Linked DNA regions of Homo sapiens: regions 2, 3 and 4 are each linked to region 1. The links come from fine-mapping of genetic effects on gene expression. A gene starts in region 1. Each other region holds a variant in brackets. All regions are shown on one strand. Distances are from middle to middle.

Region 1 (7,896 bases):
TCCTTGTGATGAAAATGTGAATGATCATAATAACTCTATTACAACCTTTGTCATGCACACATGACATTTTTGTACTAAGGAAGTAAATTCACTAAGGGATTCTTACTACTGAAATTCTTTACTATTCTACTTTTACATGAAATATTGTAATATATAAACATTAGAGGCAATATGCTTTTATTTTGGTTGAGTTGCGAAATATTGCGCTTAACATACTTGATATGTTTAAAGGTGTTTAAGGAAATACTGAGGACTTAAACTTTGAACTTTGTAATAGCTTATACACTCACCTCGTTTAAAATTATAAATGTAAAACAGAGTGAACCATGAAACCTTTCTAGCCAATTTTCCTCTCCAGAGCAAACCACTGTTGCCAGTTTATTTTGTTTAATGTCAAGAACCCTACAATTTGAGAAGCATAGAGTGGTACATATCAACAGAGAAAAAACAGTCAGCAATACAGATTAGCAATAGATTAAGAATGAAAATAGAGATACACTCATCTTATTGAAAAATTAGAAATGATTTGATAGAGGAAATATTAAAGCCTATTTGCTGTGCAGGTAGCAGTTTCACACACAGATTTCTAGACCAGACCTGTTTGACCGGCTTGGTCTCAGAGCTGCTAATGTAACCCAAGGAGACGTAAGGCTGATGTAAATAAAGTAAGTAACCATTGGAAGTTGAGACTTTCCAAAGATACAGTTCAGGAAACTTAAAAGGATGGCATATGGAAGTTGAGTGAAGGAGAAAGAGAGGGAAGTAGAAAAGAGGAGAAAAATGTTAAGCAAAAAAGGTAAGAGGAAGTATTGAAACTTATTGAAAAACCTGAGACATTACGGCAATCACGCTTGAGTTTCTCTTCCTATTCTGATATTTACTACCCATTTGACTTTGGGCAAACCTTCAACGTTCTCTCATTGAAAATTGTAACTTCATTAAAGAATGCTATGCAGATAATAAGCAAAGTACCTCGCAAATACACAATCTATTTTCTATTACAAATATCAGTTTTTATGACTAAATAATAAGACAATTTTTAACCTCTGAATGATTAATATTCTCTGGTTAGGGTAAAGTTTATTTACATGACTCATCTGTATAATAGGGAAAAATCTGTTTTCTTTAAATTTGAAATAAGATAATGTATAGCTGCAGAAACTCCTGGAGAAAAGTATGTAACTCAACATCGGTGCTAGAGTTTTAAGTTAAATAGCATTCCTCAGGACCATCAAAAACATAAAATATTAAAAATATGCCCACTACACCTTGGCAGGCAGAGACACTTCAGTGTGTAAGATACTGCACCATTTCTAAAACGTCTTAATAAAAGTTATCCTAAGTATTTTAGTTTGGCCGCTCGTCTGAAACGTTTTGCTGGGTGCAAACATTGTAATTAGTGCTCTCTAAATTTAGTTGTGCCACTACTCCTGTAGATCCATTTAGTGTCCCCCTTACCGAAAACAGCGTTCTCAATTAGCTGTTGTTTTCCACTTGTAAGGACAGTCAAAGCTGAAGTCTTAAAAAAGTGGTAGTGCCCAGAAATGTTTCTTAGGCAAGTCTTGTTTTGTCAAGGTGTTTTAAGCAGTGTGGGGAAATGTGGGCAGAGATTAATCTTAGGGGCTTCTAGTGCCACTGTTAAAATTCCACTCTGTGGCCTAAGTCTCTGGCAAGCATGAGCACTGTGTCCTTGCGCTTGAATCTATCTTGGCTAAAGCCTATCAGTATTTTTATGATTCATTTTGAGGTGTGGCCAACTGTAAACGTCTCAGAGCTAAGCAAATACCATTAAATCCCAGGAGCACATTGAAAAGAGGTTTATTTGAGCAATATTGAGGGAATTTCGGCACAAATTTCATGGGCTGTGATTAAATCTAAGCTATTTGTCAAGGCCTCCAAACCCCTGAATGTGTAACAGATTGAGCTAATTCATTGGTGTTTGTAAATTGAGTTTGGAATTAAGCTCCTTTGTAAATACACCGTTTGAGATGCATTTCATCTTGCAACTCTTTATCGTGGTTTTCTCAAACTTAAAATGTATAAACGAATTCCATCTTACGTGAATTTGCTGATCAATTTCTAACAGCTCCACATTTCTAAATTAATTTAATCCACACACTCATCTTTCTAATGATTTATTCTTCTCCCTGCTTAATATATAAATGCCGAATGAGATATCAGAAGGAGGATAATAGTGGAGAGTATATAACCTGGATCTTACTCAGTTTCAGAAGTATTTCAGAGAAGCACGCACAGTGCTTATTCACATTGACATCTGGATTTTAATATTGTCAGTTTTTGGGGGGTTAAATTCCTTATTACAAATTTATGTCAAGGATCTTCTCACGCATCATCACAAAAAATAATTTTAACTGTTGTTACTATATTAATTTTTTGACGTTTGGAGATAATATTAGCCCTGGAATAGTATTTTTGAACTCATAAATTTGCATTATTTGACTTGATCCTTCGTTCCTTGACTATGCAGCGTGAGTCTGAGACACGTGTATGTTTACTGAACACAAGAGGTGGGCCCCAGACACATGAAAGATGTGTCTCACTCACCTCTTCCTCCTACCTGAGATTTCATTCAACTTTCCCACTGAACAATGATTTTGCACCCCCAGAGGGGTTTTCTATGATACAGTTTATAAGAATTTAATGATTGTTTCATTATGTGAATTGTCAGGTATAAGGTGGAGATATTACACTCCACGTTCCTTCTGTAGAGTGACATCTGCTGGGCTGTGCCCCACAGTGATTTTAAGCAAGTGCCTGCTTGTTTTATGGGGATCAAAGCTCATTTCTCCCGATGTTTAAACATCTAGTTTATTGTGGTCCGGAGAAGTAATTTTCACTTAAACATCAAAGTCAGTTCCAGAGTTTAACGAGTGTACCTGAAAGTAATGCTGGAAAAATACCTCTGATGTATTTCTGTAGATGTGTGGTTATGGCAATCTGTTGGCATAACTCAGAACAGCCTCTCCACATAGAATTGTCAAATAATTTCTTCGTGTAATTATGTTTGGGAGTATGGTTGGGGACAACGTACTGGATATGAGTCAACGTGGAGGGGTCAACAGAATTACTGCTTTCAGGGCATTAAGGAAACTCAATAGGAAACAATACCCATTAAAAGGATACACTTGTGCAACAAGATTGTCGTTTATCTTGACCTGTTTTAGAAAACACGCAACAGAGGCCCGGCGCGGTGGCTCTCGGCACTTTGGGCGGCTGAGGCGGGCGGACCATTAGGTCAAGAGATCCAGACCATCCTGGCCCTGTCTCTACTAAAAATACAAAAATTAGCTGGGCGTGGTGGTGGGAGCCTGTAGTCCCAGCTATTCAGGAGGCTGAGGCAGGAGAATCGCTTGAACCCGGGAGGCGGAGGTTGCAGTGAGCCATGATCACACCACTGCACTGCACTCCAGCCTGGCGACAGAGTGAGATTCCCTCTCCAAAAACAAAACAAAAAACAAAAAACAAAAAACAAAAAAAAAACGCAGCAGAATAAGGACAAAACTCACGTCCTTTTAAAAACGCATCTCTTTGCCTTAAAAGGCTGCAGTGATCCTTCCCTGGCAAAAATAAAAAACCACAACTGCTTTGCACTTTGATATTTACGGCCAGGCAAAGCCTGTGTAAGTCTTCGAGAGCCGCCGGCAACAAAAACCGTGGAGCGCACCCAGCAAGTTGCTCACTCCGCCGCGGACTGCGAAAGGAGCAGGGTTGCGGAGCTAGGGCTCCAGCCTGCGGCCGCGCATTCTTGCGTCTGGCCAGCCGCGAGCTCTAAGGGTCGGCCCCGCCCGGTCCGCCCCCGCGGCTCCCTGCCAGGCTCTCGCGGGCGCGCTCGGGGTGGGGCCTCGCGGCTGGCGGAGATGCGGCCGGGGCTGCGCGGTGGTGATGCGAGCCTGCAGGGCGGCGCGCCGGGGCAGCCGGAGCCGCGCGCCGCGGCGCTGTAATCGGACACCAAGAGCGCTCGCCCCCGGCCTCCGGCCACTTTCCATTCACTCCGAGGTGCTTGATTGAGCGACGCGGAGAAGAGCTCCGGGTGCCGCGGCACTGCAGCGCTGAGATTCCTTTACAAAGAAACTCAGAGGACCGGGAAGAAAGAATTTCACCTTTGCGACGTGCTAGAAAATAAGGTCGTCTGGGAAAAGGACTGGAGACACAAGCGCATCCAACCCCGGTAGCAAACTGATGACTTTTCCGTGCTGATTTCTTTCAACCTCGGTAAGCTAAATTGGTCATTTTCCGCATTACAGATTTAGCAAAGTATAACTTTTTTGGCCTGTATATTGATTTTTCATACATTGGTATGCTCAAGCCTGGACATTTTCTTAAGAACACACGCGGTTTGTCAGGGAAGCTTTCCCCTTGCTGAGAGCCCTGCTCGAGTTGTTTCTTTAGGCGGTGACACCTGCGGAGAGTTTCAAGTTGAGTATTACAGTGCCTTCAAAGGCAAAATTGCTCCAGAGGAGATAAGAGAATTCTTTTCTTAATGTGTTGTTAGTTTGCGATCAGCAGAAGTGAAAACACCAAGAGGAACGTCTGTGTCTGAGTTAAAGGGAAGAAGTTGTAAGATACTGTTGGGGAGGCGGGGGTGTATTTAAGACACTTGGCTTTCAGTCTTTCACTCCTCATCACTAGGTGGGATGTAAATCAAATTGCCCTGTAGACTATCTTCGTTTCACCTGCCATTGTATCACCAGTATTCTTTGCAATTGGTTGTATATGTACTTTTGGGAGAAACATATAAGGTAAGATACCAATATGTAAAAAAAATGTGTAAATAATATCAACTTGCTCAGTAAACATAACAAAGGTTAGGCATATTAATAGTTTTTTTCTTTTGGCTTTAACTATGAAGTCAACAGAACCAAGGGGTAAATTACTGAGGGAAAGTCACCCATAAAATCAGTTTCTTTCTAAGTTAATTTAGGGATGACAGGGTGAAGAGGTTGTGGAAGCAGGAAGAAACTGTTTCTTTTGAAAATTACCAACACAAACATCTCTAGAGTTTCCTCCATCTGTGTGGTAAAAGAAGCGTACAATTTCATTTCTAACTCTCATAACATATGCACCACCTAGGAAATCTACTTACAATTTTTGTTTAAAATTGCATATTCCATTTAATTCTTTTTATTCTGTATTAATGAAGCTGTCTTTTTCAGTTGTTAGTGGTTCTTACAAAGAATTTAATAATTTTGACTATGAAATTTTAATTTGAAAAGCCAAATAATGAAGATCAGCATTGTTGTAACCTGTAAAAATAAATTTCTTTACTGGACTCTTGGGTCACTTTATTGTGTAATTATGGTAGAAGCAAAATGATTGTGTTTCTTTAATGGTCCTGAGTTTATTTTACATGATGTAGCCACTAGAGCTCCTGTAGGTTTATGGTAACACATTATCTGGTCTTCCTTGGGATTCAGATATTAGTTAATAGCATGTACCAATTTTATATCTATAGTTTGAAGCAGTGACACCTGTCTCTTTGATTTATCTTTGGGAATTTTGACAGCCCACATTCTGGTTGATTTATTTAAAATATGCATTGGTGGATACATGGCTCACTGGATTGCTCACCACTAGGTCATTGGTTTGAATTTGGCACTAGTCCATGGTTACTTCAACTGCATCATTTAACAACTGCCTGTTGGTCATCTGGATAAAATGGCAGATAACTGATTCCAGTGACTTCAGTGATCCAGGATTGAGCACACATAGATTTATGTAAGGAAACACCACTTCCAGAGACAATTACTCCAAAAGAGCTAATGACTATTGAAGTGAGTAGGTACACATGAATGCTCATGTGAGATTTTGCTGCTGCTGTTACGTTAGTGGGGGGAAAGAGTTCTCATCCAGTAATATTCTTTTAGCTCAATTCTATTCAAGTCTTTTTAATGTAATGGATTTCTAGAGAGAAGATCCGTTAAAATATTGGGCTTTCCTTTGGGTATCAGTGTTTTTCTTCACTGCTTTGTTCTGTTTTGATGGTAGCATCAATTTGCTGGAAGATGAAAGTTTCTCTTGTTGCAAAGACTTCCAGACACAAATGAATCAAATCCACATTTTCACATCTGAGAAGCAAAGACACAGCACCTCCTACTGTTTGCATTACTGTAAAAGTTCAGATGGTTCTTTTGTGAATAGGGTGTTTTGTCTAGATTGCTGTTTTTTCCTACTCCTAAAATGTGAAATGAGATATAACAAACATGTTGTCTCTCTCTTAAAGGTATTTTCCCTTGGATATTAACTTGCATATCTGAAGAAATGGCATTCCGGACAATTTGCGTGTTGGTTGGAGTATTTATTTGTTCTATCTGTGTGAAAGGATCTTCCCAGCCCCAAGCAAGAGTTTATTTAACATTTGATGGTAAGAGAGTTGATAAACACTCTGGGAAAAATGTTATTTTAAGTTTTGTTATCTTCCTTATCCAGATTCAGAAATTAAGAGTATAAATATTACTGGATATTAATTTTAAAAATATTTACTGGGCTGCGTTTTGGAGGACAATAGCTATTTTAAATGATTGGTTAATAGACAAAGATCCTCTGTTGGATTTGAGGTATTTATGAAAATGCTTATAATATATGCTGCTTTTTGTAAAATAATTCTTCTGTGCTTGCCTGTGTACTCACAGAGGAGATGGGCACGAGCTCAAAGCCTAGCATCTTTGATCTTACTGTTCACCTGGTAATGTTAAGAAATTGCCCCTTTGTGCTAATCCTCAGCAGCAGAGAGAGCTATGCAGGTTCAATTACTAAAAAATTCTCCCAATTAATTTTTTGGGCATTAGTCTCAAAACTGGTTACTCCGTGTGTTGTTCTAATGGTGTTTCTTCTTTTTCCACAAGGATTTCCTGAGATTGGCATAGTCCCCTAATTAATTGAAAAGGACCTAAAAGAATAATTGGAAATATGCTTTTGATGGTTGTTGTATACAAATGTTCTCAGAAGCTTAGGGAAATGGGTGTGATTTCAGATTTTCACATACATAAAAGGTGCAAGGTCTTCTGAGGGAATGGTTTGCATGAGCTTTAATGTATATAGTTCAAAGGACTTACAGATGAATGAATTTGGTTAGTCAAGTAACCCATACTAATTGGACAGATGGAGCAAGACATGGATGAGGAACACCATCCTGCCAATCAAGGTCATTTATAATTTTATTACTTCTTTCAACTCTGCATAAACTTTAGTGTCATTGCAAGTACTTTTTCTTTCATTTGATAAACAATATATTCTCAGACCTTTCTATAGCAGAGTGTCTCTGAAACTTTGTCTCAAATTCCTTTTTTTTTTTTTTTTTTTGAGACAGTGTCTCACGCTGTCACCAGGTTGGAGTGCAGTGACACGATCTCGGCTCACTGCAGTCTCCACCTCCCAGGTTCAAGCCATTCTCCTTCCTCAGCCTACCCAGTAGCTGGGATTACAGGTGCGTGCCACCACACCGAGCTAATTTTTGTATTTTTAGTAGAGACGGAGTTTCACCATGTTGGCCAGGATGGTCTCGATCTCCTGACCTTGTGATCTGCCCGCCTCCGCCTCCCGAGGTGAGCCACCACGCCTGGCCTCAAATTTCAAATAGCAGAATGACTGACACTTGCCAGTCAAATGGCTGTCCTTTTTTTCTTTTTAAGTCACCAGTGCTTTCCCCAAGGTTGTCATAAGCACCGAAGGAGCCATATTTGGAACTTAGAATGTGTGAGCTTCTAATTGCTTCCTTAGCCTCCATGCAAGGCATTTCCCCTTAAAACCCATAGCTATGCAGTTAAGTTGTGAAGAATGGAAAAACAGACCCTTTGAGGTATCCTTTTTAGCCCCTTAATTACTAAAGCATCTTACAGACTACCCACACTTTTCCTCCCAAGTTAGAACTATGAAATA
Region 2 (7,896 bases), 23 kb before region 1:
ACTGTCATCTGAGCTCCACACTGATAACCACCTGCCCATTTGACAGCTCTACCCAGACATCCCATAGCTACATCACATTTAGTGTCTCTAGAACTGAAAGTATGATATTCTCACGGCCCTCTCCTGTGTTCCATTGGCAGAGAGGGGCTTCAACATCTCCCTAGTTCTCATTTAAATTTGATATCCAATCTAGCATCAAGTCCTGTTAATTTTATGCCAATGTATTTCAAATATTTTCACTTCTCACATGCTAACCGGACTCCTCACATCAGCATTATTCATATCCAAGCTATAATTCTGTAGCCAGAAAATCTAATGAATTCAACGTTTTCAAAATTCTTCCTTGAATGTATTCTACACCATGCAACCATGGGGCATTTGCACAGGTTATACCCTAAACCCCGGGAATTCTCTACCATCCCCTCTTCACCTTAGTAACACCTTCCATCCTCATATCATAAATATCATTTCCCCATAGGAATTTGCCTGACCCCAAAGTTTAGATTATATTTCTCCATTCTATGCTTTTTTCACCCCAAGTCTCAGATTATAATTAAATAATCAACCTATTATTTGTAATTTATGTTATTACATGTTTGTTATTTATTGTTTTTCTTTGTCTTCAGAATGTAAGCTCCATAAAAGATTATATCAATCTGTTGTCACCTCTACCTACTACAATATTTTACACAGAGAACGTCATAAATAAACATTTGTTAAAGAAATAATAAATAGGCCGGGCGCAGTGGCTCATGCCTGTAATCCCAGCACTTTAGGAGGCCAAGGTGGGAGGATCATGAGGTCAGGAGATGGAGACCATCCTGGCTAACACGGTGAAACCCCGTCTCTACTAAAAATACAAAAAATTAGCCGGGCGTGGTGGCGGGCGCCTGTAGTCCCAGCTGCTCGTGAGGCTGAGGCAGGAGAATGGCATGAACCCGGGAGGCGGAGCTTGCAGTGAGCCGAGATTGCGCCACTGCACTCCAGCCTGGGTGACAGAGCGAGACTCCATCTCAAATAAATACATACATACATACATACATACGTACATAAGTACATACCAACATGCTGCTTAATGTGTTACCCCTTCTAACAGAATTTGCTTTATTAGGAGAATGACTCAAGTGGCTTTGTTTTCTTCTAAAATTATATCCATAATCTACATCCTTTAATCGCCTGATGGTTCTGAGTCCTTTTTGAACTCTGCACTAAGTATAATTAATAGCCAGGATATCCCCAGGTGGGTCTGCGACTGTCATCGCATCTCAGCAGACTGAAAAAGTGATGCCCATTTGGTAAGCTGGGGTAGCAGGACATGTTTCTCTTTAATACTCTAGCCAATACTTAACTAGCAGTTGTAAGGTCCTGTAATGCTCTTTCTTAAGTGTCCATTCTGTTTCCTCCTTGATGCCAATTTGCTTAGGGTCCTCAATGACTTTTGCTTACACTTTACATTCAATGTTAACAAAATAAATAAATTATGATTTTTGTCTTCAAAGAGCTCAGAGTTCAGTGGACTATACAAAACAAGTAAAATAAAAATATCTTCATAGTCCCCATTCAGACAAATCCTGCAACTGAGAAAAAGTGGCAGTGCGTGAGAGAAAGTTATACTAGGTAAAGGGAAGAGCAAATGCAAAGACATAGATGCTTGAGAGGGAGCCACGTGTTGAGAACAATGAGTGATTTAGAGCCCATCGAGACTGGATCCCATAATGAGACAGGCAGAGGAAGGGACTGGTTAAGGTCCCATTGGAAAGCCATTTTACCATGGTAAGTTTACCTTTTATCCTCTGTAAAATAGGGAACTGTGCAAGATTTAAATAGGGAAGTGGAATACTCAGATTGTTCAGATTGGTTTTTTTTTTTTGAAAAGAAACATTGTCGGTATTTTGAAGCATGAACTAAATTAAGGATTAAGGATTAATTAACTTTTCTTGAATCTGCAAGCAAATTTGTCCATTACTGTTCTTTTGTTTTGGTCCAGAAGGGACTATTAATAAAATACGGACTAAAAGGAGAGTTGCTTCTGCATTCTCTACATTGACTGCCTCTACCATCTCTTTATTATATTTATTAACTTGTTATTTTTCTAAGATGCCTGTTATTTCAAATTGCCAGCAGCAATTTTCTTTTGGAGGCTATCCTGGGACTAAAAAAGAATATTCGTTCAAAGGATATGATACAGTATTGTAGAACCTAATTAACACATTTCATATATGAATCATTATGTTATTTATTACATCAGCAATTGACCACAGTTAGTAGAGCAAATAGATTTTAACTTTTTCACCAATTTTTGCAACCCATGGCCACCTAGATACATGTCTCAAAAGGAAATCTCTGCAGAAAGTGTTTATCCAACAGCGATGTTTGCCATATGTGAAGATAAGATCTGGTCATGAGTCCAGGAGCATCAACCCAGTGGGTAGCAGGTAAAAGGTTGGAAGGAAGCAGATTCTGTAGCATTGGGACATTGACAGTGGGGAGCACATGGAGTGCTTGGATCAAAGAGACATTTTAGAACAGTAGTGTGGCAACTTGATGAAGATAATTAGATAATAGTGATATGAAGCAGTTTTCTTGAATCTGCAAGAAAATTTGTCCATTACTGTTCTTTTGTTTTGGTCCAGAAAGGGTTATTAATAAATAGGGACTAAAAGAAGAGTTGCTTCTGCGTTCTCTACATTTGACTGCCTCTACCGTCTGTTACTTTTTTTTTTTTTTGAGACAGAGTCTCGCTCTGGCTAATTTTTTATATTTTTTTAGTAGAGACAGGGTTTCACAGCGTTAGCCAGGATGGTCTCGATCTCCTGACCTCGTGATCTGCCCGCCTCGGCCTCTCAAAGTGCTGGGATTACAGGCGTGAGCCACGGCGCCCGGTCAACTTGTTACTTTTTTTTAGATGGTTGTCTTTTTAAATTGCCAGCAGCAATTTTCTTTTGGAGGCTATTCTGGGACAAATAGAAAATACTGGTTGAAAGGAAATGATACAGTATATGTAGAACCTAACTAACGCATTTCATATATGAATCATTATGTTATTTAATCAGCAAATGTTTGCTCAGTAACTATTTGAATCATTTTGTTTAACTATTAGCATCAGCAAAGATTTGTTCACTGACTCTCTATTACCTAGGATATACCCAGTATTCCAAAAGGGAAAAAAGTAGCATAGCCTCTCCTCTTGAAAACTGTATTTTCCATAATTTATTCAAGCAAAATTGACTACTTAGACACTATCCCTTTGAAGTAGCCCTCCCCAAGCTAACCTATGAACCACTATTTGCTCATAGGAAGGAAGTGGTTCTATCTAAGGCTAAGAGCCAAGAATTTTGCATTCCATTCCATTCATTGCTTCTGTTACTGATTTATTAAGTAATATTAAGTAGCAATTCTGCAGACTTTTCTCTTTGGCCTACTGAGCATGGCAATGCACTGGAAATTCCACTAATGTGGGCACAGCTTGGGGCACGACAAAGAAATAGGTGGAGACTAGAAACACATCTCTGACATGTCTTAGGAATGTCCCTAGGGATATTTCATTACTGAGTAGCTGAGCAGAGACATGACTCAGCCAGAGTTCCTGCAACTGGCTGTCTGGGGCAGCTATGAGAATGCTGGCAGGAGTTGCTGACTAGCCAGTGTTTGGTGAAGATGAAAAACAGCCTTTTAGTTAGAACTGAAACTTCTAAATAGCAATCTGATTGTACAAACTGACTTGAGTTGTTTGTTAGTACTAACATATTAAGAGGGGAATAAATTTGCTATCTGTCTGCAATAGCTTTCTCAAATATGTCAATGCATTTGAAGCACCTTGCGAAGAATTATTATTTAATCAGTGGACATTAGAACTCCTATTTTGATGGATTCTTTAGAAAAATACCTTGATTTTTGCAGTTGAAAAGTGAGAAAGGTTCTGTTGACAGAGAACTAAGAAATATGTAAACTTGTTTCTTAAGAAACAAACACTAAATTGAAGATGGAAAAAAGGGGAAAGAAAAGAGATGGAAGGAAGGTGACCAAGGAATAGAGCAGAAGAATGAAAGAGTGGATGAAAATCTATAGAAAAGCAATGCCTAATAAATAGCATTTATATTAGTGGTGCAAATTTTCCCTCCATGTGATAATATATACAGATAGATATATATTTTACATTGGGATTTTGATTATTTAATATTTATTTTTAGATTGTGTTCACTATCTGTGATATAAAGAAATTCAAAAACTTCTTTCCTGGTTATGAAACATTGTGTTACTCATTGCCTTTTTTTCAAAAACAGAAACTGGACAATTAAGGCTAAGTGCAATCACTCTGTTTAAATTTATTGGGCAATAGTTGCATGATCTTCAGTTGTGGAATTTGTGTGTCAAGG[C/G]TCATATGACAATTCCTTTATGGCACTGAAATAAGACTGTACTTGTCTTTGCTTTGTCCTTTCGGCCTGCCCTTGGTGAACTCCTTATTGCAATGAATTCGTATTTCTGAATCTAAAGATGACTAGCTTCTAGCTGCTAAGTTAAATTTAAACCTCCGTGAGGACACCAGCTGTCCCTAAGTGAGATAATTTGCTATTTTCCTCGGGCCAAAAATTCCAGTTTGGGGTAAGACAGGGCCTTGAAATGCACATTCCCTAAGAGGTTACTTTTGATCCAGAGATCTCTTAAAGTGTTAATGAATTTCCACACACATGAGCACCCTGCATTTTTTTCCTTTTGGGTTAAAAACCGAAGAGGTCTATAAGGAGACTGTCTCAGAACTTTGGTTCCCAGAACCATTATTTATATTCAGCTTCAGTGTTCCTTATTTATTAGCTGGGACCTAGCAGAGCAGTTACAGCAACAGAAAACAGCAGATGGCAAATTTCATGGTGGCGATAACACAATAACTGAGAAGTATGTGGTGAGCAATATGGGAGCTCTTCACAAATCCCTTATTATCCTTTTTTGTTATTTCTGTGTGTGGAGGGAGGGATGTTAAATGTTTCGTGTATATTCTCTCTCCTATCCTATAACAATGACACAAGAGTGTATGATGCTATGAAAACAGCTCTCTTGCCTCTAGTTGGGGCAACTCTAAGGTGTGACACACACTCCAGAGCTCCCTGAAAAGTCAGGCTAAAGTTCTTCTCTACAGGATGCATGCCTCTGCACCTGCACTATTGCTTGGCTTACTTCCCTTCTTTCTTCTGCTTTTTCCAACTCCCTAACCTGCATGCCCTAGAGGAATTTCCTTAATAAATTGGTTACACATACATCCTTGGCTCAGGGTCAGCTTGTACTAAACCTACAACAAAGGGAGGGGTGAGTAAAATGAGGAGACAGGGAAAAGATGAATCTCCAAGAGAGATAAAAATGAAAGGTTACTGGAAGGCAGGATGGAGCAAAGAAATCCTTAAAGAAAGGAGGGGAAATAGGGTAAAGGGGGAATCAAGAATTGAGATACTATTGTCTGGCACCATAGTATATGGGACCTTTATTTAGGGGTCCTGAAACATAGTGCTGAAACACAAGGCCCTGACTTCATACTGACTGAGGATAAAATTCCAACTTTTCTACCTCACAAGTGTATAGCCTTAGGCAAAGTAATTTACTCTTTAAGCCTCTGATTTTCCATCTATAAAATGAGTCTGAGATTTTAACCCTTAGAAATACCTTTAAATATGGAAAGAACCTTACACCTAAAGGTATTTATTGCAGCATAATTTAGAGATGTGGTCCCCAACTGGGGGTGATTTTGTTCCCTAATGGACATTTGGCCATATCTAGAGACATTTTTTGTTTTCACAGCTCAGGGATGGGAAGTTACTAGCAGCTAGTGCATAAAGACTAGAAATGTTGGCCGGGCGCGGCGGCTCACGCCTGTAATCCCAGCACTTTGGGAGGCCGAGGTGGGCGGATCACGAGGTCAGGAGATTGGGACCATCCTGGCTAACACGGTGAAACCCCGTCTCTACTAAAAATACAAAAAAAAAAAAATTAGCCTGGCGTGGTGGCGGGTGCCTGTAGTCCCAGCTACTCGGGAGGCTGAGGCAGGAGAATGGCGTGAACCCGGGAGGCGGAGCTTGCAGTGAGCCGAGATCGGCCCACTGCACTCGAGCCTGGGCGACAGTGCGAGACTCTGTCTCGAAAAAAAAAAAAAAAGACTAGAAATGTTGCTATACAACCCACAGTGCACAGAATAGTCTCACACCCCCCTTCAACAACAAAAACGTTTTGGACCAACATGTCAGTAGTGCACAGTTGAGAAACTTTAACGTAGAGTAACAAAAAGTTGAAAGCAAATATTTTAAAAATTTAGAAATAGAGCAAGATTAAATAAATTATAATGCATCCCCTGAACTAAATAATATGCTATAACTGAAAAAATTATTTTTTTTTAAATTGTTGACACCTATGATAAGATGATAACAAAGTAGAAAATGCTGGACAGTCTGTATGTAAATTGTGTAAATCAATTAATTAATTCAAGTCATACTTTTCAAGAGCTAATCCATGCCAGGTATTGGACTAATGGATATTATAGTGGTAAAGGAAACACATTTATGAAATTTGCATTCTAGTAGAGAGAAAGGACAGTAGAAGATAGATAGATAGATAGATAGATAGATAGATAGATAATAGGTAATATAGATAGATGATGAATAAAAAAATGAACAAGAAACAACTCTCTGAAGAACTGATATGTCAGCTGCGATCTCAATTTGTAGAAGGTGTGAATCATGGCAGGATGGAAGGCAGAGCATTCCTAGATAGACTCGTTAGGTTGAAGACTCTAAAGTGAGAACAAGCATGGCAGTTTTGAAGAACAGTAGTGTGAAAAGCCAGAGAAAATTATGGTTAACAATACAAGCTATTGTGGAGAAAGACAGACTTGAATTTGAATCCTCGCTCTGTGGGATATGAAGTGAAATGTTCACTCTTTCAGAAACTTTTTCTTAACATTGTTTCACGGTGTATAATTGGGCATAAGAAAACTTCTCAGGATTATTGTGAAAATGAAATTAGGTAATATATGTAAAGTGCCAAGCATCTTTTACATGATAAGCACTCTATAGTTTGAATTTAATGAAAAAGTCAAGATTAAAAAATATATATGGTATACAAACGGGAATAAAAAAGTCATACAGAGATATATATATGTGTAATATATGTATATTACATAGGTACACACATATACATATGTAATATACATAACATATGTAATATACATAATGTAATTATGTATGTAATTACATATACATAACATATGTAATTTATATGTAATATACATATGCCTATGTAATATACATAACATACACAGTATTAGGGTACAGATGCATTAGATTAGCTAATCATATACATATGCCTATGTAATATACATTACATACACAGTATTAGGGTACAGATGCATTAGATTAGCTAGCCTCCTAGATGCTTCTCATTCTATAATGCCAGGACTTCACAAATTCCTGTACAATGATAAATGACAATAGCTTTTGCTACATGTACTCATTCATATCAGTTCTCTGAACCAATGAAGAATGGCAATCTGATTCTCTAAGGTATAGAAGTGTGGTGGACATAAAGTAACAACTGAAAGAGCCCTGGTCTGGTGACCAACAGGTACCGGTTCTCTTTGAGATTCTGCTGCCTATTAATTTTGATTCCCTAACAATCACCAACTATTCTGAGCCTCAGTTTCTATAGGTATAATGAATAAATTAGACAAAATCATCTTAAAGATCCTTTCTAATTCTAGAATTCTAAATATTGCAGATTATTTAGAGATAAAAGGTGGTTTTACCAGATTTTAGTTTAATCAAGTAGAAAACTGTTTTAGAGAAGATAATACTGGTTCCTCTGAGAAGAAAAATTAAAGAAATCTTTTGGTTTAAGGAAAGTATCTATTTATAATTT
Region 3 (7,896 bases), 80 kb after region 1:
TCATATTCATTGTCGATGAAGTAACAAAGCTTGCAGAGTTTTAAAATTAGGGAATACAGTTTATATGTCTCTGATGAAAAGAAACAGAAAGACAGATTCTGCACTAGAACCCTGTTTATTTGCTCTTCTGATTGTATGGCATAATGTGGCTTGTTTGACTTAATCTTGTAAAGTTACTTAAATTGTTTAATGTTCAGTCCCTCAAATAACACCACCCCAGCTATCTATAACTCATTTTGCCTAGTAAAATGTGTTGCTTTTTGAGATTCAGGAATGAAAATGTCTGTAAGTCAGTGAAGTGAAGCTTCCCTCTGCATTAAAAAGGTGACCATGAGCTGTTAATACTTAGGTCAAACTGGATTTCTCATGGTTTCTCATTTCCTCTTTTAAGTGCGCCTTATTTCCACCAAAAGATTTTACTGAAAATTAAAAAGAAAGTCATGGCTAATGTTTGTCTCAATGGGGTAGCAGCATTTTGTAAAATAAATAAACTTTGAGTCTCATATTCTGCTATTCTTCTTGAAGTACATGCAAGAATGATAAATATTATGTTTCCAGAGCAAAAACAGCAAAGTGCAACACTGATCTCTTTTGAAAGCTTGAGTGATGCCATCTCCAAATACCATCACGTGAAATTTGGAAACAAATGGTTTCGCAGTCTAGCACAAAGGAAAGAGAAATGTCTTGGATATACATTGAAAAGCCATTGTGTATATGATAAGTCTTGGGCTTTCAAAGCTGCAGGAAACATGGTTGCATCCTTTGTGCTTCTCTTGAAAAGAATTAAAGGGTGGCTCTATTACTATGTAGAAGCCCACTCCCAAGGACTGTTTAAATCTCTGCTCCAGCCGCTGAGCACTGCAGAGTCACTGACCTTGTATTTTAGACAGTGTCAGAGGGAGAGAGACAAGAAAAAAGGAGAAAAGGGAGCTTCTGCGTAGAATGACTGACAAATGTGTTTAAAGTTAAATGAACATGTCTTCACTGTCCTCTGCAGTTCTGCAGACTTGTTTTTTTGTTTTGAAGCCAAATGTAGTAACTTGGCTAAACAATGAGTCACATTGAAATAAATAATATTTAGATAAAGTAGCTGTCTTTTTAGGAAAACATCTCCCCATCTCTTTGTTCATAAAGTCTGGGCCTTTAAATTTGAGGTTTTATGGTATATAGTTTATAATATTTTTCCTGTGTTCAAAAGAAAATGAGTTTAAGAATGCATCAAGTGAAAGCATAGTTCAAGAATTTTTGCTGGTGGGGAGAGCTGAGTTTTTAAATATCAAATAGTTTGTCTTACTGAAAGCTGTGGGTGGTCCTCCATCATTCTGAAGGAATCTAGAGATGGGGATTTTTTGCCAACATATAGCTGTTTTCCAGTTAGATGCTGATGTTTCTGTCATTGCCTAGTTCAGCATTTTATTAGGTGCAGTGCAGCTAGACTCCTGTATAAGAATATATGTAAATTACAGTGGTCTGCAAGGAAAGTTTGCATAGCCTGATTCTTGATCAAAGGGTAATTACAGTCCTTTTAACTGACAGGGCATTGAAATGAGCCCCCAGGATTATGAGAATATGTATAAGTTGCATTTTTGTCAAGACTTTTTTCTACATTTATTTATTACTATGCAGGCACACAATAGTTTAAGAATACAAAATATTTTTATTCTGCTTTACTCACTTAATATTGTATCATGAAGCAATCTTGCTCTCAAGAACTCTTCATTAAGCAGAATTATCTTTCTAGCAAACTTGTATGTGATCATGGCGGGTACTTGCTCGGATTTGTTTCATTGGCATCTGAAGTGACTTGGGAAAAATTCAACCCCTATGGTTTGACAGTCAAGAAATTTGGATCTTTCTGTGTTGGTTGGCTCCTTGTTTCTGCTGAGAAAACCCCACTCCATTCCGCTTCTTGATCAACCCTGAGACTTCTAATCATCCTTTGAATCTCCCACCTGAGGGTTTCTACGCAAACTTTTTCTACTCCCTGGAAAATGCTTATTTCTTTATTAGCTCAACTTTATCCTTCAGGTCAAAGTTTACATGATTGTTTCCACAGCCATGATGTAAAGCCCTTGTCTTAAACACTTACCCTCCCTTTTACTATACTTTGTGCATTTATTACTGTGATTTTAGTATAATATTGAGTGGCTTAGTTAATATTTATTGAATGGAGAAACAAGATCAAGTACTTCCTTCTGTCTAATATTTTTCTGTTATTTCCAGGAAGACTTAATTCTTCATTCTTTAATGCTCCTCAATTTTTGGAGTCATCTTTTTACACTGCAGTTGCTCGTGTACCTCCACTTTAGACTCTCCTGTTTGAAAGAGAGACCAAATTTTTGCATATTTTTACCTAGCTCCTGGCATTTACCATCGCGCTCTCTCTCTCTCGCTCTTTTTTTTTTTTTTTTTTTTTTTTTCCTGGAGACAGGTGCTCTGTCACCTAGGCTGGAGTGCAGTGGTGCAATCACAGCTCGCTGCAGCTTCTACCTCCCATGCTCAAGTGATCCTCCTACCTCAGTCTCCTGAGTAGCTGGGACTACAGGTGCATGCCACCAAGCCTGCAGATTTTTGTATTTTTTGTAGAGACATGGTCTTGCCATGTTGCCCAGGCTAGTCTCTAATTCCTGGGGTCAAGTGATTCACCCGCTATTGCCTCCCATAATGTTCGGATTACAGGCATGAGCTACCACACCTGGCCTTTTTACCATCTATTGAATGAATGAATAAATATATGTCTCAAAGAATATTTCTGTTTTGTATACAGCCTGCTGTGTTATGTATAAACACAAGCAGTATGTCATAGAGAGCTGTGGGCTGTGTTATGTATAAACACAAGCATTGTGTTATAGAGAGCTATGGGCTGTGTTCAGAACTTTATGAGGGTGAGAGGGACAAGAGACTTCACTAAGCACATAGGATCTCCTATTCTTGCTATAATTAAGTGTGCTGACTAAAAGTACCCACTGGAAGCCCACAATATGGTCAAGGGAGTTTTATTGAAAGCATCCAAATCCAGCAAATAGTATAAATTTTGTGAAAGACTAGTGTTAAATGTTGCTTTAAGACTCTTTCCATATGTGGTTCCAGTGTGGTCACTTAAGGGATGTGCTTGGGGAATGGCGTCTATTAGATTCTCGGTGTTCTGGGGTTTTGCTGACATGATATACCATGTCAGGTCATCATCCTTCCCCAATGCACACACATTGGTCTGAAATATTGACTGTCTTTATATTTCTGTCCCACCATCCAAGGACTTTGCTATAAATGTTTTAAAATATATCCCTACAAGTCTTATTGTTTGTGAATGACCTTTAACACTTGTTTCCATATTGAATATAGCCTGCTTTTATGACTTTAGCACATGAGAAAATGTTTTCCGTATCTTAACATTTTTACACAAAAAAAATTTTTAATGACAGTGTAATAGTTTATTTAGCAGAGGTACACTTATTTACCCTGAGCTCCAGCTGATACCACATTTCTCTTCTGTGCCCACTTTTTTCTCTGTCTGTTGTCAGGTATCTGCTTTTGTTTTGTTAACCATCCTGGAACCACTGTTCTTGAACACCTTGCCTCAAAGTAAAGCTTTTTCAGAAGTGCCAAGAGGTCTAGAAAGCAGGTGTCAGATGAAGTGTTTCCTCCTCTACAAGTTTATCTGCCTTGTTTATATCTCAAGTGGACACTCTGAAACTGAGGCCTTCCTAGAAGTATGAATATCATTGATACTGATAGCTCATCTGTGTTGTCCTTATATAGATTAGTGATAAGTTCAGATTTTATTCTACTTTTTAGAAGTAAGTTACTGCCAGTTCAGTCTCTCATGACATCTGAGATATTCCCTAATTGTGTATTCTTCCTACCCTGAGATAGAATCCAGACAGTACTTACCATACAAGGAACAAAAGATTGGCCATGTCTTCCAAGTGAGCTTAGAGAAAGGGAAGTCAGAGTTTAGAATTCTCTATTTAATTGAATTACACAACACAAGTAAAATATGTTTTTTGTAGGTGATAAGGTGTGGCTCTGTGTCCCCACTGAAATCTCATCTCAGTTGTAATCATCAC[G/A]TGTCAAGGGAGAGAACTGGTGGGAGGTAATTGGATCATGGGGGCGGTTTTGCTCATGCTATTCTCAGTGAGGGGGTTCTCAGGAAAGCTGATGGTTTTAAGTGTTGCACTTTCTTGCTCTTTCTCTTTCTCTTGCCACCATGTAAGAGGAGCTTTGCTTTCCCTTTGCCATTCACCATGATTGTAAGTTTCCTGAGGCCTCCACAGCCATGTGAAACTGTGAGACAATTAAACCTCTTGTATATGAATTGCCCAGTCCCAAGTACTATCTTTGTAGCAGTGTGAAAATGGACTAATATAGTAGGGGAACAAGATAGCCTTGCTTTTGGTTTAGCTTCATTTTTCTAGAAAATACACAGTTGTATTACTGTGGCTATGTTTCTAAGATTGGTTTTTACATAGACCCCTTTTTCCTACAAGATGTATAGTAATATGAAGGATTACATTAGCTTTACAGATATCCCACAACAATAGATAATATGTGTAAGCAGTGAAAAAGGAATTATTTTTATAGACATTTTGTTGCTATACAGAACATTAGAGATTATTCTGGTTCCAAAATATTCTCATTCTTTTTTTATATTGTAGATGCAGGACCTAAGGGGAGTGCTCTGGAGGGTGGTGTTGGGGTAAACCCTGTACCAGCAAAAGGTGAAACTAAAAATTTAACCTTGGTCTACTATTTCCAAAGCCAAGCCTTTTGCCTTCCCCAGCCATACACACCCTACTTTTTAATAGTGATAAAGTATTAATATTTCATGTAAACCATGATTTTCTGAAATTTGATGGCATTTTTTCCATTTGATTGGTTTATGCTCATATTTTTAATTCACCATGATTAAAAATAATAAAAATCAATATAGCAAACAAAAAAATGGTAGAATGTGAATGAACAAAGACCTGTGTTTCATGTTTAGAGTCAATTTCCACTTGAAAACTGTACAGAAACAAGGTAGGTTTCAGCAAGTCATAGTGTAGTCCCCTACCCCACAATCCAGGACATTGTAGACCATTTCAGATGACCTTCCAGGCAGCCTTCAAGAGAAAAGAAAACCAAGGAGGGAAAGGAGCAAATTTATCAGCGAACCTGAGACCTGACTTTGTCTAAAGGATCGAGAAAGCTTTTATGAGACAGCCCTGTTTAAATTACATCAAAACTATTGGTCACATTATAAGTAGGAATTAGAAAAAGGCAGGAAGAATTTTATAAGCAAGAGGAACAACATGTACAAAGGTCCTGAGGCCAAAAAGGAGCAAGGCAAGTTTGAAGTTTTAAAAAGAAGGCCAGCAGAGCAAGAACAAAGAATAGGCCAACAGTGATGATTAAGATTTGTGGTAAGGTAATCTGGAACTAGATCATAGGAGGCCTGGAGGGCCATGTTAACCCTTTCCTGTTTGCCCCAATAATCCTTGCAGCTGCAGCATTTACCCCAAGGTAACTTTGCCACAAAATATCTCGCTTTCATTATTATTTTCGCATCACTCTAGTATATCGACTTAGGAAACAAAAGACTTATTCTATTTATAGTATTCTGTTTTTAGTAGTGGTATTTCAATTCACAAAATACGGTAATTCTCGATTCCTGAAAATGTCAAATCCCAGAAAACTTAGCATTCCTATGTGTTAACATCTTCTTGAACAGTTGTTGGCCAAAGATTGATTTGATTAATCCGACGTTTGTGAAATAGATGATTCTGAAGATTCAGATGATTCTGATGCTAGTTCTGTGTAGAAATAACTGCAAGAACAGTTTTATATTTTATTTCATAGTGAAAATCAGTCAGACTTGCTTCAGCCCCAAACAGTGCGTTTATGAAAAATTAAAGGAGCACTGACAGCATGCTCCACTTTTTGTTCTAAATGGGAAAGGGTTAAAATTTTGAAATTTTTACTAAAACTAATAGAAAACCATTCAAGGTAATTAAGAGGTTGCTTAAAAGTAGAGCAGCCATATAATTTAACTTCCAAAACATGAATCTTTTGAGAATGAAAGAGGGCACTAGTGATAATTATGCTGGGGAAATGGGCACAATCTGGGGCTGTCTGGGGCAAACCAGGGCGAGAATCATTGTTTCAAGACACCTGTGCATTTGCAAATCTTCCCTCTGATGCAATGCGTGGGAGATACATTCTGTGTTCACTGCTGTCTGTCTGTTTTTGTTTGTTTGTTTGTTTGTTTGTTTGTTTGTTTTTGAGATGGAGTCTCCCTCTGTTGCTCAGCTTGGAATGCAGTGGCATGATCTCTGCTCTCTGCAATCTCCGCCTCACAGGTTCAAGCAATTCTCCTGCCTCAGCCTCCCGAGTAGCTGGGATTACAGATGCCTGCCACCATGCCCGGCTAATTTTTGTATTTTTGGTAGAGATGGGGTTTCACCATGTTGGCCAGGCTTGTCTCAAACTCCTGACCTCAGGTGATCCACCTGTCTCAGCCTCCCAAAGTGCTGGGATTACAGGCGTGAGCCACCGCGCCCAGCACTGCTGTCATTCTTTAGCTGGGTTCCCTGCGTATAGTTGTTTCCTCATTCCTTCTTTAATCCATTTGGCATTTTGCTTCCATTTATCCCATCATGCCTGTCAAAAAGCAAAGAAAAGGGGAACCTTCTGTCTTCTACATGAAGCTGTGTCTGTGCCCTTGATGAAGCTATGTCTGATACCATTTTCATGCTGCCTCTCACACCTTTTTTAATGCTTTAGTGAGAAGAGCATCACTGAGATGTTGATAGTTCTCGAGTTGTTTAGAGTATGGTATCTACTCGTCCCCGACTGGCAAAGAAAATTTGGGAAGCTGAGGCATTTCTTATACTACATTTGATACTATGCAGACCCATGTCCAGAGCAAGAACATGAAAGAAACCCAACTAGTAACTGTCGAAGTTGTCAGTCTGATTAGAAAAGCAAGAGGTCATCTGATTGAGTTCACAGATTAAGGACTGGCTTTGCTTTGAATCCTGAAATCTTGCCTCTTTTAGTCTTTACTGTGTGATCTTGGGTAGATTGCTCAAATTTGCTCAATTTTAATTCCTTTGTGTGTGGGACTAGAGTAATATTAGAACCGAATGCAAAGACTTTGAATGGAAATTGTGTGAACTAAGTTTATAAAGCACCTAGAACACTTGCTGCTACTGGTAAGCCCACAAGTGGCTGCTATTTGGGGCTATTATTTTTGAGCAAATATGGTTTTAATAACATGCCCTCTGGTCTCTATTGTCTTTGTTCACATTAGGAATTAGTAGCTGTAGTTTCAGTCCGCTGAAGTTTCACTGCTCTTTATTTTTTTTTCTAAACAGACAGGTGAAATTCACTTTCTAATCCAGTTTCAAAACAATAAGCCTCAGGGAGAGGATGGGTCACTTGAGCCCACTCTGCTTAAAATTCTTCTGAGATAAGACATTCAAAAGAGGAAATTATCCTGTCAGTAGCAATATCTCTGAAGTAAAAGATATCCTACAGATTTACTTTGAAATCTGTAGATGTGCATTCTGCCTGAGATCTGAGGTTTATGATGAGAAGAATGTTTTGATGGACTAGCCAAACAGAATAACAGAATGTTAGGTAAGCAGTGAAATAGTAATTAGGACATGGTATCTTCGTTATTTCTATCCTCTTATTTCAGCAAAGTGTCTAGCCTGCTGGGATAAGGGCTCAATAAATGTATATTGAACAAATTAATAACACATCATGAATTTTAAATTCATGAGTAGTTACTGCATATGCTTCTAATCTAGGGACTCCTGGGAATTGATTTTCAATCAAGGAGTCTTTTACCTATTTTTGAATTTTATAAAAGGCTGAAGACAATGTAGTATTCTGAATGAATGAGTTACCCTA
Region 4 (7,896 bases), 220 kb before region 1:
TTGTTTTGTAACTTAAAATATGGTATATCCTTGATGATGAACCATGTGCTGTGGAGAAAAATGTGTATTCTGCAGCTACTGGATGAAATGTTCTGTAAATATCTATTAGATCCATTTGGTCTACAGTGCAGATTAAGTCTGATGTTTCTTCCTCAAAACAGCTCTTTTGAATTCTTTTGAAGTCTGAAAGGTTACATATCTCTGTCCCTTCAAGATTGGTCACTGGTGACTTATTTAGTTTGTCTGGTGAGATCATGTTTTCCTGGATGGTCATGATGCTTGTGGATGTTCATCAGTGTCTGGACACTGAACAGTTAGATATTTATTTTAGTCTTCATGGTCTGGGCTCGTGTGTACCTGTCCTTTTTGGGAAGGCTTTGTAAGTATTTTAAAAGACTTGCATGTTGTGATCTAAGTCTTTGGTAACTGCAGCCATTATCTGCTTTAGGGGGTAACCCAAGCCCAGTAACACTGTGGTTCTTGCAGACGCACAGAAGTACTGCTTTGGTGGTCTTGGCTAAGATCCAGGAGAATTCCCTGAATTACCAGGCAGAGACTCTTGTTCTCTTCCCTTATTTTCCCCCAAACAGTCTCTCTCCATGTGCTGAGCAGCCTGGAACTGGGGGATGGGTGACACAATCATGCCCATGGCCATCACCACTGGAACTTCACTGGCTCAGACTTGAAGCCAACACAGCACTGGTTTCTCCCAAGGCCTGCAGTGACCACTGCCTGCCTACCACCTATGTTTCCTTGCATCCCAAGAGCTCTACAATCAGCAAGTGGCAAATCCAGCCAGACTTGCGTCCTTCCTTTCAGGGCAATGAGTTCCCGTTGGCCCCAGGTGCATCCAGAGATGCATCTGGGAACCAGGGCCTGGAGTCAGAAGCCTTAGGAATCTGCCTGGTGCTTTATTCTACTGTGGCTAAGCTGGCACCCAAGCTGCAACACAAAGTCTTCCTCACTCCTCCCTCCCATTTCCTCAAGCAGAGGAGTCTCCTTCCAGTAACCACCAGCATCCCAGGCCCACAGCAGGTACTGCCTGGACACTGCTGATCTACACTCAAGGCTCAAGGGCTCTTCAGTAAGCTCATGGTCAATGTTGCCAGTTCTGAGTTTTGCTCTTCAAGGCAGTGGACTCCCTCCTGGCCCAGAGGATGTCCAGAAATGCCATCCAGGATCCAAAGCCTAGAATCAGGGACCTCAGGAGTCTGCTTGGTGCTCTACCCCACTGTGGCCATGCTGGTACCCAAGCTGCAAGACAATGTTCCCTTTTCTCTTCCCTCTTCTTTCCTCAAGCAAAAGGGAGTCTCTCTCCATAGCCACCACAGCTGGGAATGTGGCAGGTCTCACCTGAAGCCAGTATACCTCTGAGTCTCACCCAAGGCCCACGGCAAGTAGAACCTGAGTACCCCTGCTGATTATTCAGGGCCCAAGGGCTTTTTAGTCAGCAGTTGATTAACTCTGCCAGGACTAGCTCCTTCCCTTCAAGGCAGCAGTTTCCTTTCTTACCCACAGTGTGTTTAGAAATGTTGTCCAGTAGCTAGGGCCTGGAATAGAGGCCTTAGGAATCTGTCTGGTGCCCTATTGTGTCCGGAATTGGTGGGTTCTTGGTCTCACTGACTTCAAGAATGAAGCTGCGGACCCTCGCGGTGAGTGTTACAGTTCTTAAAGGCGGCGTGTCCGGAGTTTGTTCCTTCTGATGTTCGGATGTGTTCGGAGTTTCTTCCTTCTGGTGGGTTCCTGGTCTTGCTGGCTCAGGAGCGAAGCTGCAGACCTTCGCCGTGAATGTTACAGCTCTTAAGGTGGTGCATCTGGAGTTGTTCGTTCCTCCCAGTGGGTTCGTGGTCTCGCTGGCTTCAGGAGTGAAGCTGCAGACCTTCATGGTGAGTGTTACAGCTCATAAAGGCAGTGTGGACCCAAAGAGTGAGCAGTAGCAAGATTTATTGCAAACAGTGAAAGAACAAAGCTTTCACAGTGTGGAAGGGGACCCCAGCGGGTTGCCACTGCTGGCTCGGGCAGCCTGCTTTTATTCTCTTATCTGGCCTCACCCACATCCTGCTGATTGGTCCATTTTACAGAGAGCGGAGTGGTCTGTTTTGAAAGGGTACTGATTGGTGTGTTTATAATCCTTGAACTAGATGCAAAGGTTCTCCACCTCCCCACTAGATTAGCTAGATACAGAGTGTGGACACAAAGGTTCTCCAAGTCCCCACCAGAGTAGCTAGATACAGAGTATCAATTGGTGCATTCACAAACCCTGAACTAGACACAGGTGCTGATTGGTGTGTTTACAAACCTTGAGCTAGATACAGAGTGTCGATTGGTGTATTTACAATCCCTTAGCTAGACAGAAAGGTTCTCCAAGTCCCCACTAGAATCAGGAGCCCAGCTAGCTTCACCCAGTGGATCCCGCACCGGGGCCGCAGGTGGAGCTGCCTGCCAGTCCCGCGCCATGTGCCCGCACTCCTCAGCCCTTGGGTGGTCGTTGGGACTGGGCCCCGTGGAGCAGGGGGCGGCGCTTGTCGGGGAGGCTCCAGCCACACAGGAGCCCACGGAGTGGGGGAGAGGCTCAGGCATGGCGGGCTGCAGGTCCGGAGCCCTGCCCCTCGGGGAGGCAGCTAAGGCCCAGCGAGAAATCGAGTGCAGCGCCGGTGGGCCGGCACTGCTTGGGGACCCAGCACACCCTCCGCAGCCGCTGGCCCGGGTGCTAAGCCCCTCATTGCCCAGGGCCGGCAGAGCCGGCCGGCCGCTCAGAGTGTGGGGCCCGCCGAGCCCACACCCACCCAGAACTCGCGCTGGCCGGCAAGCAGCCCCGGTTCCCGCCCGCTCCTCTCCCTTCACACCTCCCGGCAAGCTGAGGGAGCCGGCTCCGGCCTTGGCCAGCCCAGAAAGGGGCTCCCACAGTGCAGTGGCGGGCTGAAGGGCTCCTCAAGTGCGGCCAGAGTGAGTGCCAAGGCTGTGGAGGCGCTGAGAGCAAGCGAGGGCTGTGTGGCACCTCTCACTATTCTACTGTGGCTGAGCTGGTATCCAAGTTGTAAGACAAAGTCCTCTTTACTCTTCCCCTCTCTATCCTCAAGCAGAGGGAAGGAATCTCTCCCGGAACCGAAACTGTGAGTTGTACTGCCTGGGGTTGGAGGAGGGGTGATGCAAACACACCCTTGGCCCCCATGGCTAGTATCTCAATAGATCATATGCCCCAAGTCCACTAGTTCCGAGCCCAGGACAGCACCAGGACTTGTCTAGAAACTACAGTCCTTGTGGCCTAGACTGTCTTTCAGGTTTATTTAGGACCCCACAGTGCTTTTGCCACCAGTGTTGGGGCTAGTTAGACTCAGGTTTTCACAGCAGGCAAGGACAATTTGCCTCTGGTTAGGGCTGGTATAAATGCTCTCTCCATTGGTGTCAGCCAAGCTCTGCCCCATGTCGTTTGCTGCTGTGACAGAGCAGCACTGAGTTCTAATGAAGGTCCCATAGTCACCACACTGTCTCCTCATCAGGAGCGCAGATTCTCTCTGCACCATGTGGCTGCTGCCAGGGAGTAGGGGAGGGGTGTTGTAGGTGGTTCAAAACTGTCTTTCCTGCCCCCTCCAGTGCTTCTTACTGAGATCACTCACCTGACTTTTGAATGTTATGAAATGTTTTTGTTTTGTTTTGTTTTGTGGATAGTTCCTCAATTTGGTGTTCCTGCATGGGGAGGGGAAGATCACAGGAGGCTTCTGTTAGACCATCTTGCTCCACTTC[C/T]TCCTCACGCACTAGAATTTTCAGTCTATATGAAACACATAACAATTTCACTGGTTAAATAAATATTCATCAATTTGTTCATAACACGAATGCATCTGCTTAACAGGGACTAAAAAAAAAAAAAAAAACAACCAAGATTCTGCTTTTCAAGAATCATAGGACTTGGGGAAAATTTATATGCCTATGCTAGAGAGAACATCCCTGAAGTAATATAAACAAGTATCCAAAATGAGCATATATAAATACTAAATGCAATGTAATGGAAGAAACAGTATGGGCTGGGGTCAGTCCAGCTTCCTGGAAGAAATTTGGCCAAATAGCTGTGCAACTCTGGGGGGATAGTTTAACCTTTGTGAATCTCACTGACCTCATCTGTGAATGAGGAGCTTGTTCTCCATAATTTCAGCCTGCATGCAATTCTCATGGTCTATGAAGTCATGTTTCTCAGCTTAACTCCATAGGAGTGGAAGTCGTGTATTGGCAAAGGCAAAGAGTACGCCTTTCTTGAAAGGCAAGCACAAAGTTCACTGGTTAGACATTTGTTCAACAATTTTAACAAGGCTTGTCTCAGAGGATATTTGGGGAAATGAGCTTAAAATTGTATATATGTTGGCTGGCTTGACTAACTAAACAAGTCAGCTAATTTGTAGTCTTCCTATTTACACAATTATGTTAATATAAACTGCCACTTATTAGCATTTTATTATATGCCAGGCATGCTACATTATTTTCTCACTGCACCTTACTACAACTACTGAGACTAGGTATTACATTCATTTTACAGATGAAAAAGATGAGACTCAATGAATTTAACAAGACAAGAAGTGAAGAACTAGGATTTAAGGACAAAACTGACTGGTTCTGATGCATGTTATTTTTCCACCAGGAATAACACGGCTCTCTCTAATATTTAGGCAGCGCTTACTGGGGCACTGCTGAAAGGATTTCACAAGCATTTAATTCATTCCATTCTCAAACGATCCCATGACATATGCATACTTTTTAATCCCTGTTTTATAGATGAGAAATATGAAAAACAGAAAAATTAAGTAACTTGTGGGAAACTACACAGCTACTAAGAAGCAGAGCTAGGATACACTGTGCCATGAATTCTTTCCCATATAACGCTGTGTAAATGCCAGGTGGGTGTATATGACTATTACAGTGTATTAGATGGGGTAGATAACTCATGTTACCATGTCTCAGTTATTTCTTAAATACTGGGCAAAATGAATGAAATGATGCACAGTAAAGGACCTACCCAAATGTTAGGTAAATTGTTTTATCCATCCAGAGTCAAAGGAATATTTGCTTTGCCACGTGTGAAAAATGCCTAATAGATTTTCTTATCAGGGGGCTATCACTGCTAATAAACAGAAAAATTTCATTGGCAATTACTACATAGCTAAGGGTTTTACTTGAATTCAACTTTTAACTGCATTTATCCTCAAGCAGCAAGGGATTTTTTTTGCAGGTAAATTGTATGTTATGTAGACATTATTGTTCCATATGAGATCAAAGAAAATTCTTTCCTATTCATTTTATTATGCCAAAGAGCTGAGGAGGGTCTTGGAATGTTTTTAGATAAGAATTGAATGAGAAAACTTAACAGTTTTTAATCCTATCTTTAGAGAGTTTTTTAAAATAAATTAACCTAAAGTGAAAAGTAGTCATATCCACTAATACTAGAAATATGAACTTTCTCTTGAAAAAAAAAAAAGAGGAAGTATGTATAAGACTGCATTCCTGGAGGACTTTCCTCTTTATTCAAGTCCATAAAACAGAATGATTGCTTCCTTTCCATATCCCAGTATCACATGTCAGAATAATGATGTTCTCTGACATTTATTAGAAACATTACTGTATTTTTACTGTAATGTCTTGGTGGCTAAAAACGATAAAAGTATTTATGAATGTAAGTCCAAGTTCTTCTATTCATTATCAAGTTACCAAGAAATTCCTCAAGTAAAGAAATATATGATTGAAATAACAGAAAATAGAGAAGGAAGGAAGGAGAAGGAAGAGGAGAATTAGGAAGTCAAAATATTATAAATACTCATAAAAAATAATATTTTAGCCAGAAATTCATACCACTAATTGCTTATAAAAGAAGTTCTAGGTCAGAGTTTGGCAAATTGTGTTCTGTAAAGGACCAAATAATAAATATTTTAGTGTTCATGAGCCATAAGATCTCTCTTGCAACTATTCAAAATCTGCTATTTCTGGTGACAGGATGGCCATAAACTACTTGTAAACAAATGGATATAGCTGTGATCCCATAATATTTTGTTTAAAAAAACTGGTGGAGGGCCAATTTGACTCTCAGGTCCTCTCTAAATCATAATGCTGAGATGATATCCTAGTGCTTTTTGATAGAATTTTCCACTTTGAATGAAATGTTCTATATCTGTGCTGTTCAACATGGTAGCCACTAGTCACATGTGGCTACTGAGCATTTGAGATATGGCTAGTGAGAGTGAAGAATTGAGTTTGACATTTTATTTGATTTTAATCATTTTATATTTAAGTAGGCATATGTGAGTAGTGGCTACATATTGGACTGCATACTATATTTCTTTGCTTCTTATATTTTAACCTGAGAGTATAATTACAGAATTTCTTTTTATTGCTAATTAACAAAAAGAAGTTTTTTATACATTGAGTTTTCCAAAGTGCAAAACTTTAAAAGATACAAAAATTTACACTATGTATCAAAAAATTAAAAGACCATTTAACCTATTTTATAGTATATAATATCCATATACACAAACAAAAAAATACAGCACATATCTGTCTTTACACTTTAAAGCCTCCCTAGCTTTAAGATGAAATTGTGGCAAAAGCTACAGATGTGAGAAAAATATGGTTAAAACAAATAAAACATTTAATTTTGCTCATTCTATATATTTTACTATTAATGAACTAAACAAATACCTCGAATGTAATTCCAGATAGAAATTTCCAAAAGGTATGTGGCATCATTACATATAGCAAAGCATTGCTCTAAAAGGGTTACAGCATAATTTGATGAAAAGAAACTGAGCTTTGTAATCAAAAGCTTTGAGTTCAAGATTCTGCTTTATTCTTACTACTCAAATGGTATTTTCAAAATATTACTTTATTTCTTGAAGTCACAGTTTCACAGTTTTCCTTGGAGGTAAAATCAAGATATACATATCACCCATTAAAACAAGTTGTGGTGGGGATTGTGGGGTTTAAATAATATGTACACCCTACATATACCATAAACTGCTACACAGATATCTGTTTTCATTATTCTCAAAAAGAGAAAGAATAAATAATACAGTAGCCAGAGTCTTTATGGCCACCTTAAATCATGTGTTGAAATCATAATCCCCAAAGTGATGGTATTAACAGTTTTGGCCCTTGGAAGGTGATCAGGTCATGAGGGTGGAGTCCTCATAAATAGGATTAGTGCCCTTATAAAAGACCTGAGAGAGCTCCCTCACTCTTTCCACCATGATAGGATACAGCGAGAAGGCACTATTCTATGAACCAGGAAATGGGCGCTCGCCAGACACTGACTCTGCAGCACCTAAATCTTGGACTTCCCAGGTTCCAGAACTGTGAGAAATAATTTATCTAATTCATATGCCAATGAGTCACAGTATTTTGTTATAACAGCCTAAATGGACTAGACAGATGCATATCCCACGTGTACTCTGCCTGAAAATGCCTAAAACTAGCTCATCTCTCCTACCCCTCCTAACGAGTGCTCACCTTTTTGACTGGTAACCTAATGCTGCAGTTATCAACCTCAGCATTCACTTCTGAAGAGACAGTCATTATATTAAGTTCCTGGAAAAATGTTTCCACAGTGCTAGAATTTTTGAACTCTCTTATAGTTAACAGCAGAGCAGAGAAAGAAAGAAGGAGAAAGAGCTTATTTAGAGACATAAACAGGCTGGGCGTGGTGGCTCACGCCTGTAATCTCAGCACTTTGGGAGGCTGAGGCGGGCAGATCACAAGGTCAGGAGATCGAGACCATCCTCGCTAACACAGTGAAACCCTGTCTCTACTAAAAATACAAAAAATTAGCCGGGCATGGTGGTGGACACCTGTAGTCCCAGCTGCTGAGGAGGCTGAGGCAGGAAATGGCGTGAACCAGGGAGGTGGAGTTCGCAGTGAGCA

Direction of the effects. Positions count from the first base shown, and alleles are read on the strand shown. Sizes are in standard deviations (SD) of each study's normalised expression. Not every link is listed here.
In carriers of allele G in region 3, the expression in nucleus accumbens of the gene that starts at base 4,010 in region 1 tends to be lower than with A alone (moderate effect, 0.55 SD a copy in GTEx).

What was found.
Region 2: its variant is fine-mapped to the expression of SEMA3C in blood mononuclear cells (TOPMed, PIP above 0.99). The same link has a PIP of 0.9 or more in T cells, monocytes, monocytes after Pam3CSK4, monocytes after R848 and whole blood.
Region 3: its variant is fine-mapped to the expression of SEMA3C in nucleus accumbens (GTEx, PIP above 0.99). The same link has a PIP of 0.9 or more in caudate and putamen.
Region 4: its variant is fine-mapped to the expression of SEMA3C in whole blood (TOPMed, PIP above 0.99).

What each region holds. Positions count from the first base shown.
Region 1 is chr7:80,915,165-80,923,060 of GRCh38, reverse strand. It overlaps SEMA3C (semaphorin 3C), which reads left to right and starts at 4,010. Exons shown (of 18, transcript NM_006379.5): 1 at 4,010-4,233; 2 at 6,242-6,382. The coding sequence starts at 6,280. RefSeq lists a silencer at 3,744-3,873 and an enhancer at 4,421-4,490.
Region 2 is chr7:80,938,036-80,945,931 of GRCh38, reverse strand. No RefSeq gene overlaps it. Among named protein-coding and RNA genes, the nearest start is that of SEMA3C, 23 kb to the right of the region's middle. The variant C/G (reference allele first, on the strand shown) is at 4,377.
Region 3 is chr7:80,835,043-80,842,938 of GRCh38, reverse strand. The region is part of intron 2 of SEMA3C (semaphorin 3C); the gene reads left to right. Among named protein-coding and RNA genes, the nearest start is that of SEMA3C, 80 kb to the left of the region's middle. The variant G/A (reference allele first, on the strand shown) is at 4,068.
Region 4 is chr7:81,136,690-81,144,585 of GRCh38, reverse strand. No RefSeq gene overlaps it. Among named protein-coding and RNA genes, the nearest start is that of SEMA3C, 220 kb to the right of the region's middle. The variant C/T (reference allele first, on the strand shown) is at 3,745.